4 linked regions of the Homo sapiens genome follow. The protein of the gene in region 2 purifies or fractionates together with the protein of the main gene of each other region. This does not show direct contact. Each region holds a gene or a part of one and is shown on either strand. Other genes may lie near its edges.

The links. The genes of interacting proteins can lie anywhere in the genome.
Region 1: the proteins of PPFIBP2 (region 2) and RTL6 purify together in Homo sapiens (affinity purification with mass spectrometry; one large-scale study listed by BioGRID and IntAct). This does not show direct contact.
Region 3: the proteins of PPFIBP2 (region 2) and C14orf93 purify together in Homo sapiens (affinity purification with mass spectrometry; one large-scale study listed by BioGRID and IntAct). This does not show direct contact.
Region 4: the proteins of PPFIBP2 (region 2) and HSF2 purify together in Homo sapiens (affinity purification with mass spectrometry; one large-scale study listed by BioGRID and IntAct). This does not show direct contact.

The regions. Positions count from the first base shown.
Region 1 is NC_000022.11:44,491,707-44,494,836, reverse strand, and holds the end of RTL6 (retrotransposon Gag-like protein 6), read left to right. Parts: 3' UTR 1-2,254; downstream 2,255-3,130.
Region 2 is NC_000011.10:7,635,109-7,640,499, reverse strand, and holds part of PPFIBP2 (liprin-beta-2), read right to left. Parts: intron 4,949-5,391; coding exon 4,907-4,948; intron 769-4,906; coding exon 630-768; intron 1-629. UniProt on the Homo sapiens protein: May regulate the disassembly of focal adhesions. Did not bind receptor-like tyrosine phosphatases type 2A.
Region 3 is NC_000014.9:22,992,768-22,996,643, forward strand, and holds part of C14orf93 (uncharacterized protein C14orf93 isoform a precursor), read right to left. Parts: intron 3,502-3,876; coding exon 3,181-3,501; intron 1-3,180.
Region 4 is NC_000006.12:122,402,652-122,406,527, reverse strand, and holds part of HSF2 (heat shock factor protein 2), read right to left. Parts: intron 1-3,876. UniProt on the Homo sapiens protein: DNA-binding protein that specifically binds heat shock promoter elements (HSE) and activates transcription. In higher eukaryotes, HSF is unable to bind to the HSE unless the cells are heat shocked.

The DNA of each region.
Region 1 (3,130 bases), on a different chromosome or scaffold from region 2:
AGCAGGGTGGGAACTCTGCTGTGTCGCCAGCGCTCACTCTACTCGAGTGGCTTTTTGAAAGCCCTACCATGTCTGTGTCAGGCCTGTGCTGCTTCACATCCTACAGCTGCCTAGGAAAGGCCGGCCACGCTCCCTGTCCACACACTCCCTGTCCACACACTCCCTGTCCACACACTCCCTGTCCACAACTGCAGCCGGGCCCTCTGCCTATGGGCACCCAATCCAAGCAGCTGCTCCACCTTTGTTTGGCATGGTGATTTGTGTTTTTTCTCTTGGTGCTTATGTGTGTGGGCTTGGGACGAGTGCTGGTATGCACTTAGGACCTTCTTGATAGCTCCCTGCACTTTGGAACACGGAGCAGATGAGAGAGGGTCGGGGCTTGCCCTCCACCTTGGACTTGGAAGAAGCCCACATTGGAGAGGTGAGGACCCCATGGTGGCTCTAGTGGAAGATACGTTAGTCTCCAGCTAAGGAGGATGAGGCGCAGCCCCAGAGGGAGACCTCAGTGATAGGGGATCAGGCTAAGAAAGTGGGGGAAGGGAGATGCTTTGTACATATTTTGGGGTTATAATTTCTCTAAATTTTAGGAGAACGGGTATTGATTGATAAAAGGGACAGGCAGTAGTGTTCAACAGTGCATGTGAAGGAAAGTTCTGTTTTCCATGGTTTTGACATTCTTTGGACTGTATTGTGACTGCTGTCTGGTCCACATGGTACCCCTTTGGTAAGTAGGCTTCAGTGCATACCAGGGTATCACTGGAGATGGGAGTTAGTGAAGGGGTGACTCCCTGGCCTAGTATAGTGTGACCCTGGGACTAACTTAATGTCCTAAAGCATTTTGGTGACTTCTAGGGAATAGCAAAGACCTATTTCATTGTCCCCAGGTAAGTATGTGATGAGCAATGAGGAGGAGTGGAAAACAAAACCCAGAAAGTGCGGCAGGACCAGCCTGACGCACACGCTCCTGTTGTCATGGCAGACAGCCGCCTTGGGTGGGCACCACCCTGGCAGTTCCAGCCTGTAGGGGAGTGAAGGGACATGGCTGAGCTGGGCATGTGCTGAGGTTGACTTAGGGAACAAGCCCTGGGATTGGACAAAAGGGCCCATGCTGCAGCCACTGACTGGGGGCAGAGCTCTGGGTGGAAGAGGGAAGAGATCCTAATGGAGGCGCCTCCATCTGCAACCACAGTTGTAAGGCTCATGGCACCTCTGCTTGGAAAGCACTGGTTTAGGGACTTAGAGAGGTAGGCACAAGGTGGGTCTCCTGGGTAAGGGAAGCAAGAGCAGACTGTTGGGCCAACAGGAGAAGCTCCCCAGAGTAGGGGAGAAGGTTGGGGTGTAGGGCCTTCCACGTGGAACAGACAGCCCCTGTGTCTCTGTCTCTTGGGGACCTGAGTTTGGGTGGGGTGGCAGTTGGCACAGCGCAGATGCGGTAGAGATGGGAGGAAACCCAGCTCCTCACTTCCGTGTGCCTCATGCCTTTGCATACACAAGCACCAAACCTACTAGGTCTTCTCATTACCCATGTAAACCACATGTTAGATAAATTTTTGCAAGTAGAGGAAAGAAGGAAATAAAACATCACATTTTGGTGTCTCTCAGGCTTTCCCCCCCAACTATGGTTTCTTTGCTTTTTGTTTTAACATAGTTTTGTTGCTGTCTTCTGTAATGATACAGTTTTGTGCAGCTGTTTTCACTTAGCATATCGTGGGCATCTCCCCTTATGATTACTAAATATTTTATTTTGGAGTGGCTGTGTACTCTCCCATTGACTAGATGGACCATTGTGCCAGTTGCCAATCACTAATGCTGTTACTAACTTTTCAGTTATAAATTGATGAATATCTTTGTGCACAGGCTGTTTCCCAATGTCAAGTTATTAGGGTAGACTCCAGGAGGTGGGATTCTTCAACTAAAGAATATGAAAACCTTTGAGGCTTTTACTACATATTGACAAAATGGTTTCCGGAAATATTTGTATCCCCTTACACTGCCACCAGCAAGGATAAACATGTCCATCTTGCCCGTATTGGGAATTATCATCTGGCTAAATATTTGCTAATTTGATAATGAAAAAATAGCATCGTGTTTCAGTTGGCATTTCACTGACTTCTAGCACGGTTGAACATCTTTCATGTGGAGCGATTGTATTTCCTCCTTTGTGGATTGTCAGTGTCCTTTGCTCTATCTTCTGGGGTCAGATAAATTTGTATGAGCTCGGTATATATTAAAGATATTAACCTGGTGTGTGTCATATTTGCTACAGCTGTTTCTGGGTTTTTGTGTGTTTTATCTTATTGGAATTTTGACATACATAGTCGATCTGTCTCCACAGCACTGTGTCTGCTAGACAAGAACACAAGGCAGGCAGGTGGATTTTGTCTGTTTTGTTCATGGCCGTAGCACTAGCACCTATGACAATGCCTGGCACGTGATAGGTACTCAGTACACTTCTGTTGAATTAGTTACTCCAGTGGATCTGCAACGCCTTGGGATCCACGGCACGTGATAAGCACTCAGTACACGTTTGTTGAGTTAGTTACTCTGATGGATCTGCAACACATTGGGATCCACACATGGATCCAGCAGTCCGCGCTCCAGCTCACAGGCCGAGGCTCTCACACTCCAGAGCTCGCAGGCCGAGGCTCTCACACTCCAGAGCTCGCAGGCCGAGGCTCTCACACATTTTGTCTCAGGGTCCCCTTGCACTATAAGAACTCATTGAGGGCCTCAAACAGCTTTTGCTTATATAGGTTTTCTCTATCAATATTTACCATATTATACATTTAAACAGAATTTTAAAATAATTATTTGGAAAATAAAAACACTGTTAAACAACATTTTAAATAAAAAAAACTATATTTTCCAAAACAAAACGCTTGTGAGGAGAGGCATTGACGAAGACATTTTTGCAAATGCCTGTAATGTCTGGCTGAATGGAAGACAGTGGGAGCCTCCTACCTGCTGTGCTTAACCTGCAAGAGCACATGCCATGGTGCCTCTGAAAGCCCCACTGCGCCCATGAGATGACGCGGAAAAGGCACATGATATTTTGGGATTATTATGAAAACAATTTTGTGGACCCCCGAAAGCGTCTTGCCCCTCTTTGAGAACTGCTGGCCTAAAGAGA
Region 2 (5,391 bases):
GGGGCCATTGAATCTTTTGCTGCTGGTGGGGAAAGATGGCTTATTTTGAATGAAAAGCAGCAAAAGCCTCTGTGGTTTCAGGTCTTACGCACCGAAAGGATACCTGCAGACCGACACCCTTGCCCATTGGCCACTGACTTCATTTGCCTAAGGAAATGCTCCCACTTGGAGTGCATGATACCCTCCTACGGGGAATAGGGAAGCTGCAGAGAAGAAGGTGGAGACAGGAGAGAGAAGATCAGAATGACAGAGGAAGGAAGCACCAGGGGCAGGAAGGGTAGAAGGGGGTGTCTGAGAGGAGGGAAAACAATGCTAGGAAGGACAGGAAAGAGTTCGAGAGGAGGAAGAGAAGAAGAGAGGAAATAAGGGTGAAAAGCTGCAGCCGAAAAGAAGTAGGGGATACACACACCCTGGTTTGCTGAGACTGTAGAGTGCTGACCTTAGAAAACAGCTCGCCCAGGGGGAGCCTCTGGGGAGGTGGGACCACCCCAAGGTACAACTTGTTCCAGCCACCCACCCCACCATTCTCCAATTGTGGATTGTGGTGGTAGGTGCAGGGATCTTATACAATCATTGAAAGTGCCAAGGACACTGCTCAGAGGCCACCAGCACCAGGGCTGGACACTCACTCAGCCTCAGCAGGCTGCTCCCCGTGGCGTCAGGCTGGCAGATGGTGGGAGGAGATTTGGCAGCCTCTCCATTGGGCGTGGCTCCTGAAAGCTTCCCAGGTAAAGTGGGATATTTGTGCTCCGCCAAGAAAGGGCTGTCCTATTGGAAGGTGAGAGAAAGAGAGAGATACCGACTTAACTGTCAGCCTCAGTTAGGAAATCCTTGGATACAGAACAACTCCCTGTTTTGCAAGAGCCATTTTTCACATATGGTGACTTGAACACCCCTCAAAGATTATTTAGCTAGTCCGAGAAAGGGGACCAGAGTTCCAAGGAAGGAAGAAACTTTCCCAAGGCCACACAGTAAGACAGGGACAGAGTCAAGTGCAAATCTGGGGCTGACTGAAACTGACTCTAACAGGAAGTGAAGCTGTCTTGCAAAGCGGCCTTTGCTGTCTGGCCTAGTGCTCAGAGACTCAATGAATTAACAGCCGTGAATTACTCTGTAAGCTCTTTGGATATGAAAATTGGCATTCTAATAAAAGCTGCCTAGTGTTTTATCATACATACATACATATATATGTAAAATAACAATCCTGCAAGAGAGGAAACTGAGCTCAGTCTGGTCTGGGCTCCTCTGTTTCCCCCAGATTTGCTTTCCTGTGGTGAGGAGAGAGGTGCTTCTGCTAATTGGAACCCTTACTCAGACCAGAAAAGGGCAGATCTCTGTGAGGGCCTGACCAACTGCATAAATGATATGGATCTTGCCTGAGAGCGGCTATGGTACAGAAGGGAAATTATAGTTTAAATGTGGAGCAAAAGAAGAAAAAATCCCTATATTGTGATCATGGCTTCTTAAAAAACATCATGTTAAGGCAAGCATGAAGATACACACACACCCTTGGGGGAGCTGACAACAAGAAATGGGCCAGAGGACTACATGCCAACAAAGCTCCTTTGGGAACTTAGGATCATAGTCTGCACGAGGTAGAGCCTCAGTGCAGCCAGCTCCATGCTTGGACCCTGGCCATGGAAAGGTCCCAAAGAAACAAGTTGATTAAATGAGGAAGAAGATAGCACTTATTTGGTAAAGAGGCATACAATGGCCTCTCTTAATCTGCAAACCTGAGAGAAACACAGTGGAATGTGCTGTGAAAGTGAGAATAAAAGAAAAGAGAAATTGAAGCAATGTCACTAAAGGAATCAACTGTGGATCACCTGATTAGATCCTGAAGAAAGTAATATAAAAAACAAAACAGATTTCAAACTGGCAAGTCACAACAGTAATGGAAGGCTGCTGTGACTGAGACATCTTATGAAGTTCCATTTAGCTAAAGGCCAAATATCCAATATATTTCCAATTCAATTTGCTTATAAACATATGTCCTAGAAATTGTTTGAGATTCAGTTCATTCATTGAACATTGACTATTAACTCCCCATAAATAGTTCAGAAAGGAGAGATACAGTGAGAGGAAACTGAATTCTGAAAGAACTGGCTGGTGGAGTAGAAGTAACTAGAACCTTCAGAGAGGAAGGCTATGAGATTTTCAAGTTTGTGATGACCCATGAGGTGAAGATTAGACATGATCAGACATACGGTCAAGACCCACAGTTTCCAAGTGGTAGTTCATGTGCCGGCTGCTCTTCATAATTACCTGGAGCACTTGTAAAACAACATGAATTCCCAGTGCCCAGTCCCTGATTCAGTCCCTCTGGAAGCACACCCCAGATGTCTATATTTTTAACAAGGATCTCAGATTATCTCAGATTATACTAATGCAGTCAGACCCAGGAACCACTGACTGTGAGAAGGTAGTGTTCAAAGATGTTAGAGACCTGAAGGGCATGACTCCAAGCTCCCTATTATATACGACATATGGAGGGGGGAAGAGCTCTCAAAAACGTGTTTCTGGTTGCATCATCACGCATGCTCCCTCAAGGCAGGGCAGAGACAGCCAAGGAAGCAAGTGGGCCACCCGGGGAGCTCCCTGAGGAGCTGAGATGCAAGGAGAACACATACCTAACCCAAGGATGGGGTTTAAAAGGCAGCCCCGACCTGTAAGAAAGACAGCAAAAAGGAATCAAGGACAATGGAAAGGGCTCTCTGAGCTCTGCTCAGGCCAAGAATAAGGGCTGGGAAGAAATGACTCACTGATGTGGAAGGCAGTGCAATGTCAAGACGTGACGCAGAGGAAACAAGGATGCTCAACTCCAGTTCTGTTTCTCCTGTCTCCAAAAAGAACAATCCTCCTGGCTGTAGGGGAACAGAAGCCCCAGCCAAGGGAGTAGTGTAGAACTGATTATCCAGCTGCTTTAAATTACAACAGAGAAGCAGCATGCCAGAGTGGAAAGGGCCTAGGCTTTGAGTCAGACCAACTCAGACAGAGCTGTTTCTCTTCCACCTCTCAGGACCTCTGGTCATTTCTAAATGGAGAATAACAATTCCTACCTCAGGTTTGCCAGGAAATAACATATCCACAGGGCCTAGCACACAGCGGACAGTGGATAAGGAGAAGCACAGGAAATATCACATACCCAGGGCCTAAAGAAATAGCAATCTAGAAGAGGAGTCCTTAGACCACGGCAGGCACTGGTCAGACTACATCTAGAATATCACACTCCAAGTCTGGTCCAGGGCAGAACTTGAAGAATACATTGAGAAACTAGCGCTGAGCCTAAGAAGACTAAGTAGCAGCTTAAAAGGCTTGTGATCCATGCACATGAGAAGGTGATGTTCAGCCCAGAGAACAGAGCACTCAGAGAGGGCATGAGGGACTTAAATTCCAGAGCTGTCAGGAGTAGGGGAGATTGACTTTTTCCATGGGCTAGATGTGGAGGGAGAGGATCAGCAGATGCACATTTTAGAGAAGCTCACACAGCTGCAAAAGAATACAAAGGATGTCTTCCAATGAAATGAGCTCTCAGTCACAGAAAGCAAGAGCCAGTTTAAGCAAGGGCCAGACACTACAGTTAGGGATGCTGCAGAAAGATGACTGTGGAGCGGTTCTGCACCTGTGTAGCTATTCTGGGGAGGACGGTGGTGTATGTGGGTGAGAGGGGAGGGTGGTCATGTTGAATAACTGAGGTTGTATAAGATTGTGATTATGGCCAAAACCATGTAAGAATTAATCTTTTAATCTGGAGCATTTTTTTCTTTATAAATAGTTCTACGTTACTTATATTTCTTGGTAATCAAATTGGCGTCTTAAACCTTGAGCCTGTGAGCTGGGTGTGTTTCCAAAGGAGCAGGTGGTCACTTACAGGTGTGCTTTAGAAACACCTGCGAATGACCTCTGTGACGCTGAGGTGGGAGGGGGGACTGCTGAGCGATTTAACAGCTGACGCCATAGGAAGCCTTTCAGTTCACAAAGGGACCACACCAACCCCAGGCTCAAGGGACTGTGTTGCAGAGCACCTGGGCAGGGGAGCAGGCAGAAGACTTTTGCTATACAGTTCAGATGGCCCAAGGAATGGCTGCCCACTTGAAGAACCAACTGCTACAAATATGGAAGAGTAGAGAAGCCCCTTATATAGATGCAGACGTGCAGAAAAGATCTTTCTCTTACGCAGATGTGGAGGAGCAGAGATGCCCCATTTTACCGTGAAAATATAAAATGACCCTCTCAGGCAGAAGTCAGCAAGCAATGAGAAGCTCCATGTTTCATATGGACATGGAGGCAGGGGACAGAGAAGGGAAATGCCATCAGCCTCACAATACATTTTCCATATAATGTTATAAATGGTGGTTGGGTGTGGCTGAAATCATGCTAATTATATGAATCTTCATTTCTTTATGGGCTCAACATTTTGTGCACTGGCCTAAAAACTTAATCCTCTTCCACAACAGGCTTCCCTGGAGAAGATCAGTCCTAATGGAATTTTTATAACATAACTTGTTCATCAAAGCGGGACTGAGTGTACACTTGTGTTTTTTTAACCATGACATATCAGCACAGAAAGGATGAGAGCTGTCACGTTCTTCAGTGTGCTGAGATCGTAGCAATCCCCTTCCCAGTGATTAAATCTAGATTACTTTGTTAAAGATTAATTTCTCTGAGCCTATAAAATGGAGGTGATAATAATAAATCCTGTCCCACAGATAATGATAGCAAAAGCATATTAAATAGCTGAGTGCACATAAAAATAAAATGGGAGAGAAAAGTTGCGTCTTTCCTCTTGCCCTCTTACTCCTTACAGTTGGCACATTTTAAGGTTATGAAAACTATGACTTGCTAAATTAAAATACTAGCAAACAGTGTAACCACAAATAGACGACGGGGCACGAAGTCAATGTACCTTGGGTTCTAACACCGGGAAGGGCTGGTTCCCATCCATACACTATGGAGTAACATGAGGATTTCGTTTATGTGGAGAAAAAGAGACTTGTGTTATTCACAAACAGCAACAACTCAGGACTACCTGTTTGCTTAAATCTGAAAGGCGCATCCCCTCCCTCCACATCTTCATGTCAAGTAATCACCATCCAGGGCAGGAAAGATCCCTGTCCAACTCCATGGACAGATGTCCTGGGCAGCTGCCAGCAACATGACCATGGCAACCGAGAGACACGTGACCATGGGAGCAGAGCCACTGAATGATCCCAGGGCTCCTGCAGACTTCAGCCTTTATGGTTCTCCACTGTATCAACAAGGAGGCTGATGAACATTATTGGAGACCAAGGGATGGTATGCAGCACAGGCTCACTGAAGGGTCTCTATCAGGGCAGGCTCCCTTGGTCTCTAATGACCAAGCTCAAGAGCCTGCTACTGTCCCCTGCAGCA
Region 3 (3,876 bases), on a different chromosome or scaffold from region 2:
AGAGATGGGGTTTCACCATGTTGGCCAGGCTGGTCTTGAACTCCTGACCTCGTGATCCACCCACCTCGGCTTCCCAAAGTGCTGGGATTACAGGCATGAGCCACCACGCCCAGCTTTATTTATTTATTAAGAGACAGAGTCTTGCTCTGTTGTCCAGGCTAGAGTGCAGTGGTGTGGTCTCAGCTCACTGCAACCTCCGCCTCCCAGGTTCAAGTGATTCTCCTACCTCAGCCTCTCAAGTGGCTGGGATTACAGGCGCACGCCACCACGCCCAGCTAATTTTTGTATCTTTAGTAGAGACGTGGTTTCACCATGTTGGCCAGGCTAGTCTCAAACTCCTGACCTCAGGTGATCTGCCCGCCTTGGCCTCCCAGAGTGCTGGGATTACAGGCGTGAGCCACCGCACCCGGCCCTAATGCAGGGTTTTAACATGTCCTTCAATTAAGTTTAGTTGTTTCTGATTGTATTTTCATCCCAAGCTCCCTCAGTCAGTGGAAGTTACCCAGTCCCAAACTGACAGATTAATATCCTGATCCAAGGACTTTTCAGCTCCATATTCAGAAATCCCCAATTTATCCTTCTACCTCTATGGCTGATTCACCATACCAACTTAGGAAAGTATTGTCAACTCTTTATGGCTAGGGTCTCCACTCTGTAAAAAGGACCATTATTATACTAGCTGCATATTCAACATAGTTATTTTACCTCTTAGTAGTCCACACTTAAGGAATCACAAAGGAGTGGGCGAATGTTTCAGAAAGTATTTGGGAGAGTTTCAAAAAAACAAAAAACAAAAAAAGGGGAAAGAAAAAAGGGAGTTACAAAGCTTCCAACTCAAGTGGCTTGGAAGAGATCAGCTGATAAAAATCAAAACAGGCTTGACATGGAAAGGGAAAATACTCTAGACAATAAGTGTGAGGACTGTAAAGGCTGTTGGCTCACCTACCTCCTGAATAAGCTAAAAATATTTCCCCAAGGAGTGGCTGGGATCTGCAGCATTCCAAGGAATTAAGAATTCTGGTTTGATCCTTTTGGTTCACAGGATCCCTAGCAGCAATCCTCAAGAGCCTCAGCAGATTGGAGAGATGCCTCTTTGATTCTGTCCCAGAGCTAAAGATTGGAATAACTGTCCCTCCCCCTCTAAACCCACAGTCTGCCACAAGAACATTTTAAACCTTCCTCCATGATGGGCAGCAGAACTCCCTGACTAGTCCTCCAGATCCTTCTCAAGCACAGAATAGAGAGAGCATGATGGTGAGTGAGGATACTGTCCTTCCTGCAGGTCTTCAGTTCCACCACACTCTCCTAAGGGAAGGAAGAAGCCAGGCCTCAATGCTGTACCTCTCTCTGGAGGCAGCAGGCACAAGTGGAATGGAAGTGATGGAAAATCCTGCTTTTATGCAAATTGTAACTATAAACTCATTATAGTCAATATGAACATTGTATGGCTAAAGAATATCTCCAGCCAGGCATGGTGGCTCACGCCTGTAATCCCAACACTTTGGGAGGCCGAGGTGGGTGAATTGCCTGATCTCAGGAGTTCAAGACCAGCGTGGCCAACATGGTGAAACCCCATCTCTACTAAAATACAAAATTAGCCAGGCGTGGTGGTGCAAGTCTGTAATCCCAACTACTCGGGAGGGTGAGGCAGGAGAATCGCTTGAACCTGGGAGGCTTGCAGTGAGCTGAAATCACGCCACTGCACTCCAGCCTGGGTGACAGAGCGAGACTAAAAACAATATCCCCACAGTTGTCAGAAAAAAGCTTTTGTGAGACCAGCCTGGGCAACTAAAATACAAAAATACAAAAAATAAGCCAGGCATGGTGGTGCATGCCTGTAATCCCAGCTACTCGGGAGGCTGAGGTGGGAGATCACTTGAGCCTGGGAAGTCGAAGCTGCAGTGAGCCATGATCACACCACTGCACTCCAGCCTGGGCAATGGGAGTGAGACCCTGTCTCAAGAAAGAAAAAAAAAAAAAAGAAGTTTTTGGGTACAGAGTTGATCCCAAAGACTGTGGTCACTTTAAAGAAGGTTTCTCAACCTCTTCACTATTGGCATTTTGAGCTGGATAATTCTTTGTTATGGGGGCTGTCGTGTGCACTGCAGGATGTTTAGCAGAACACCCACTAGATGTCAGTAGCATTCTCCTTCCCCTGCCCCCGGCCACCCACCAGTTGTAATAATCACAAACGTCTCCAGATGTTTCCAAATGTCTCCTGAGGGTAAAATCACCCCAGGTTGAGAACTACTGCCCTAGAACTTCTCTAGGTTTGGTCAGCTGCCAGGATGGGGACTCCCAGCTCAGCAGGATGTTCTTTGGGCTCCCAGCCACGCCAAGAAGTGTTCAGGCAGACCTGGTTCAGGCCAGTCCCTTCCTGGCTAAGAGCTCTTGGAATGACTGGAATCTCCAAACCTCTATAACTGAGCTGAAGGTCTAGTGACTCTCTGCATCTCTGAAGCTTGAGACCACCTCAGGACAGCTTCACTTGCTTTTCCACCCAAGGTGCCCCTTGTCACTTACTCTGCACACTAGCTTAATTTGCAGGCAATTTCCAGAGTTACCCTTTGGTGACCAATCTGCTCAATCCCTTAAAGATCTTCTCATCAGGATTATTAGAACACTAGGAAGGCTGGGCATGGTGGCTCACGCCTGTAATCCCAGTACTTTGGGAGGCCGAGGCGGGTGGATAACCTGAGCTCAGGAGTTCGAGACCAGCCTGACCAACATGGCAAAACCTGGTCTCTACTGAAAATTCAAAAATTAGCTGGGGGTGGTGGCACGTGCCTGTAATCCCAGCTACTCAGGAGGCTGAGGCAGGAGAATCGCTTGAACCTGGGAGGTGGAGGTTGCAGTGAGCTGAGATCATGCCATTGCACTGCAGCCTGGGTGACAGAGTGAGACTCTGACTCAAAAAAAAAAAAAAAAAAAAAAAAGAACACCAGGAGATGTGATATAAAGGAAGATATCACATTATCTGGAAAAGCCTAAAAGCTTGATGTTTAGCAGGGGACTTCCTATCCCTAGTGTTACAGAATAACCTCTCTCCTTATCCCTCCCACTCTGGTAGGATTCAGTACAGCATTCATTCAATATGGGAGGCCTAAAATCAACCCACCCATCACTCTTCACTTATCTCTCCAGACTGAAGAAAAATTTATAGAAACTGAGCTCACTCACAGAGAGTACAAGATCCCGCTTGCGCCTGGAGTTCTTCTGCCCACTTCCTCTGGTCCTGCATGGGGAAACGGTCAGCCCTAGAGAGTGTCTCAGCTCCCCAGTGCTCCCAGGGCCTGACTCTTCCAAGGCACTGTCCAGCGCAGCAGCGGCATTGAGCATGTCCTCAGGGCGGGGTGGTGGCAGCTTGGTTCCATTTTCTGGTCCTGTCTCTGGGGTTGCCCGCTGGATTGCCAGTTGTGTGGCTGGTGAGAGTTGCTTGGCATAAGCAGGGACCAGAACTCGCTGTACTGCACCCTCAGAGGCCACGTAATCATCCACCAGCTAAGAACATAAAAAATAATAGCCTATTAGCCAGCCAGGCTTAGGGGAACCTGGTTAACCATCATTCTTTGGCTAAGAATAGTGAACAGAAAGTGGAAAGAAGGGGAACTCTAGCACAGTCTTTAATGGTCAATGGCTTGTTTCTCTGGGACTCCTATGAGTGTTGGGCAAATATTTCTTGTGTGTACAGGGCCTCTCATGTTGGGTTGTTACCATAGGGCTGCTCACAAGGAGAAAGCATGTTTCTGACACTGTTGGTGAATAGTCATTTATGGATAGCTCTTGGATATAAGAAATGGAGCTAGATAAGTGTTTTGTCTGAAAGGACTGGGTGAAGAAGTGATGACAAGAAAGAAACCAAGCAAGAGAAGGAGT
Region 4 (3,876 bases), on a different chromosome or scaffold from region 2:
ACCATACAGGAAAACTGTGATAGTCTTCTAACTGGTCCCCTCATTTCCAATCTTCTTACTATAGATCTAGGGCCCTATACCATCTGCTCCTGCCTACCTCCCTACTCTCACTCTCCTAATTCCCTAAAGATATTCTAATCACATGGGCCTTCCTGCTTCCTTGAACAGCCACATTCAAGGCCTTACCTTTTGTCATTCCCCTTTGGCCCATCTTTTCTAATCATTTAGATCTCTCCTCAAACATCGTCTCCTTGGAGAGGCTTTCCTCATCACCTTACCTAAAATATTCACAAATCCTAGTCTGTTTATGGGCCAGTTATCAATTTATTGCTCCAAATTCATTCTTCATTGTCTGCTCTACAAGCATAGAGCTTGGTTCCTTAAATAAATATCTTTCTTTTTCTAGGTGCCATGATGTTAAGTTCTGTCAGCAGGGGATAAAAGAGAGATATTACAAGAAAAAGGAGCTCTTGTTCCTGACTCATGTATCCTTGGCAAGCTTCTGCAGTGGAGGCAGCTTCTCCAGTGCCTAGCTCTTGATATTAATGGTGGTCAGCAACACTCAAAGACCATCAGCTTTCACTGGTGCTTCCTCTCCCTTGGGAGGTTTCAAAGCAGAGTATCTCTAACAAGATATCTCCCCATAAACAGTTTTTTAGAGTACTCCAGAACAGGGATTTATAAACTTTTTCTTAAAGGGACAAATAGTAAATTAGGCTTGCAGATTATAACATCATAACTCTACCTTTGTAGTGAGAAAGCAGATACAGACAATATGTAAATAGATTGGGCATAGCTGTGTTCTATTTAAACTTTTTTTTATAAAACAGCTGGCAAAAGGACTACAGTTTGCCAACCCGTGACCTAGAGGGCATATTTCCCACCAAGTTTTGAAGGATGCATTTCCAGTAAGTTCCACCAGAGCAACACCAGTGACTGCTCTGCTACTGAGTCATGGCCATATTCCTTCCAATAAGGTAAGAATCTTAGCCTTGGCAAAAAAGGTTCTTACTTGGGCACTCTATCTCAGCCCTATCAGTAGTGGCTGCTTCTTAAAACTATTCTTGTATTCTTTTAATTTTCTTTAATTTCCCTGATATAGTCAGTAACTCTATTAAACTTACCCTCTTGAAAATACCTGTGGCTTCTGACTTATGATTGCATCTTAACCGACACACAGTTTATCTTGGTGTTTTTTAAAGGCATTTATCACTAACTGAAATTATATTGATTGTGTTTTGCTTGCTTTTACTTTTTTTTTTTTTTTTTTTAAGAGACAGGGGTCTCAGTATGTTGCCCAAGCTAGCCTCAAACTCCTGGGCTCAAGCAATCCTCCCAACTCAGCCTCCCCAGTACCCAGAACTACGACATGCACCACCATACCCAGCTTGTATTTGCTTACTATTTATTGATATCCACCACTCAATGTAAGCTCCATAAAGGTAGGCACTTTGGTTCACTACTGAATGAATTCCTGATACCTAGCACAATATTAGGTCATAACAGATTCATAACAAATACCTGTGACTGACTAAATTAATCTTTGGCCAAATAAACTGAATTTTTAGAATTTCAACTATTTGATTATATAAAATAGGGAGATGACAATAATCTCTTGCTATACCTGTGCTCACTCTCTCTCACATACACTCCTTATTCATTCATATCACTCTATCTCTGCTTATTGTATTCCCTCAGTCTCTATTCTAAAATTAGTAAATAACTTCTTTGAGTGCAAAAATTCACCTTCCTGTCTTTTAAACCTGTGAGGTTCAAGCAATACAACACAGAATCTCCCTAAGTATTTTACAAGGATGAGAAAACTACTACTGAGTGAGGTGGGAAAGATAGGCACCTTCTCCTTAAACCTTACCCACAAATGTTGGCAAGAGTCCAAAGAGTAGAAACAGTCGTTACTCTCCAAATTAATTTTGGCACTCTTGTTAGAACACTCAAAATATTCCTAATAATCTAATACTTCAGCCACATTACTTTAAAACATTTTTCGGAACAGAAATTTGTGGCTTGCTAATCTATAATTTTTAATATGCACCAGCTACTCTTTTAGAGTCTTTAGCTCATTCTTTCTCTTATATATACAAATAAAAATACTTGAAAATCAATCTTTCAACTTTTCTGCAGGTCCATCTAAGTTGGATTTTACCCCCATCCTCCCACACTTGTAGTCTTTCTTATTTTCACTTTGAAATACTAATATAATGCAATGGTTGCTGGGATGTTCAAAACAATACTAGCACTTTGTGAAGTCCAAGGGCCTACTGCTCAAATTCATCCAAAACAGCTAGAAAACAATGGAAAAATTCTGTTTTTGCTCTCTCTCCCTCCTACCTATTTCCTAATTCATCTCTGCTGACATGAGGGGGATAGAGAAGCAGAGAATGCCAAAGGGCACAAAAAGGGGGGAAAGCTGGGTATGAAGTCTTTGGTGGAAATCACTTCATTTTCTCAAACAATCTGAAGAACAGAGACAAAGGTAACAACACTGACAAAAGGATGACCTTCCAGTTCTTTCCTTCTTTTATACTGCTTCACTTCAGCATACGTTGGTTGTAACATTTCATTAACTCGTAAAGGCTGTTTTTTACTATATAACTTCATTTAACCTCTACGGCCTTGTCTCTGAATATCAAGTTTCACCAGTTGCTTCCAAGCTAATATGTGCCCTCTCTTTAGGACACTTAAGATTTAAAACAGTTTTAGGTCGTCTGACAGTACAATCTCTGTACTTGATTCTGACAACAGACTACCAAAGCCAAGAACAGTTATATAAAATTTTACATTTAAAGGAAATGTTAAAAAAAATGAAAACTTTTCATTTTTGTTTTTCAGAAGAGTAAGGAGAAAATGGAAATATGTAAAACATACTTTCTTTTCTTTCTGTTTTTTGTTGTTGTTGTTTTGAGACAGGATTTCGTTCTGTTGTTCAGGCTGGCTTGCAGTAGTGTGATCTCAGCTCATTGCAACCTCTGCCTCATGGGCTCAAGCCATCTCCCCTCTTCAGCCTCCTGAGTAGCTGGGACTAAAGATGCACGCCACCATACCTGGCTACTTTCTGTATTTTTTTGTAGAGACAGGGTTTCACCATGTTGCCCAGGCTGGTCTCAAACTCCTGGGCTCAAGCAACCTGCCCATCTTGGCCTCCCAAAGTGCTGGGATTACAGGCATGAGCCACCACGCCTAGCCACATTATGCTTTCTTAAAGACTGTCTGGAATTAAGGCATTTCTATTATTTTAGAGTCAATAACATATTTAAGTATAATTTCAATTGTTCAGATTATTATATTCTTGTATTTAATGGTGAGAGGTATTATTTCCCTTTTCAATTTTGTCATATTGCAAATTTCGAGGAAAATTAAAGTTATGTACGTCTCCAGAGATATTATCTAGAGATATTACCAACTGCGTTTTCCAAAACGCAATTGGTAAGAGTTTTTTTTCCCTTGCCTTACACTCAAGGTAGAGAAATAAATTATTTTCCACCATTGAAAAAAAAAACTGCACAAAAGCTTGTCTGGTTCCCAAAACAACTGCTTCTTCTAAAAGTTCTCAATGATTTTCATAGTATAAATGCTAAATTACCTCAACAGAAATACAACACAAGTTTGAAGGAAACCAGAAACCACCATAAATAGCAACTTTCAAAAGATGAGAGTACCTGGGCGCCGGTGGCTCACACCTGTAATCTCAACACTTTGGGAGGCCGAGACGGGTGGATCACTTGAGGTCAGGAGTTTGAGACTGCCTGGCCAACATGGTGAAACACTGTCTCTACTAAAAATACAAAAATTAGCCAGGCATGGTGGTGCGCATCTGTAATCACAACTACTCGAGACGCTGAGGCAGAAGAATCGTTT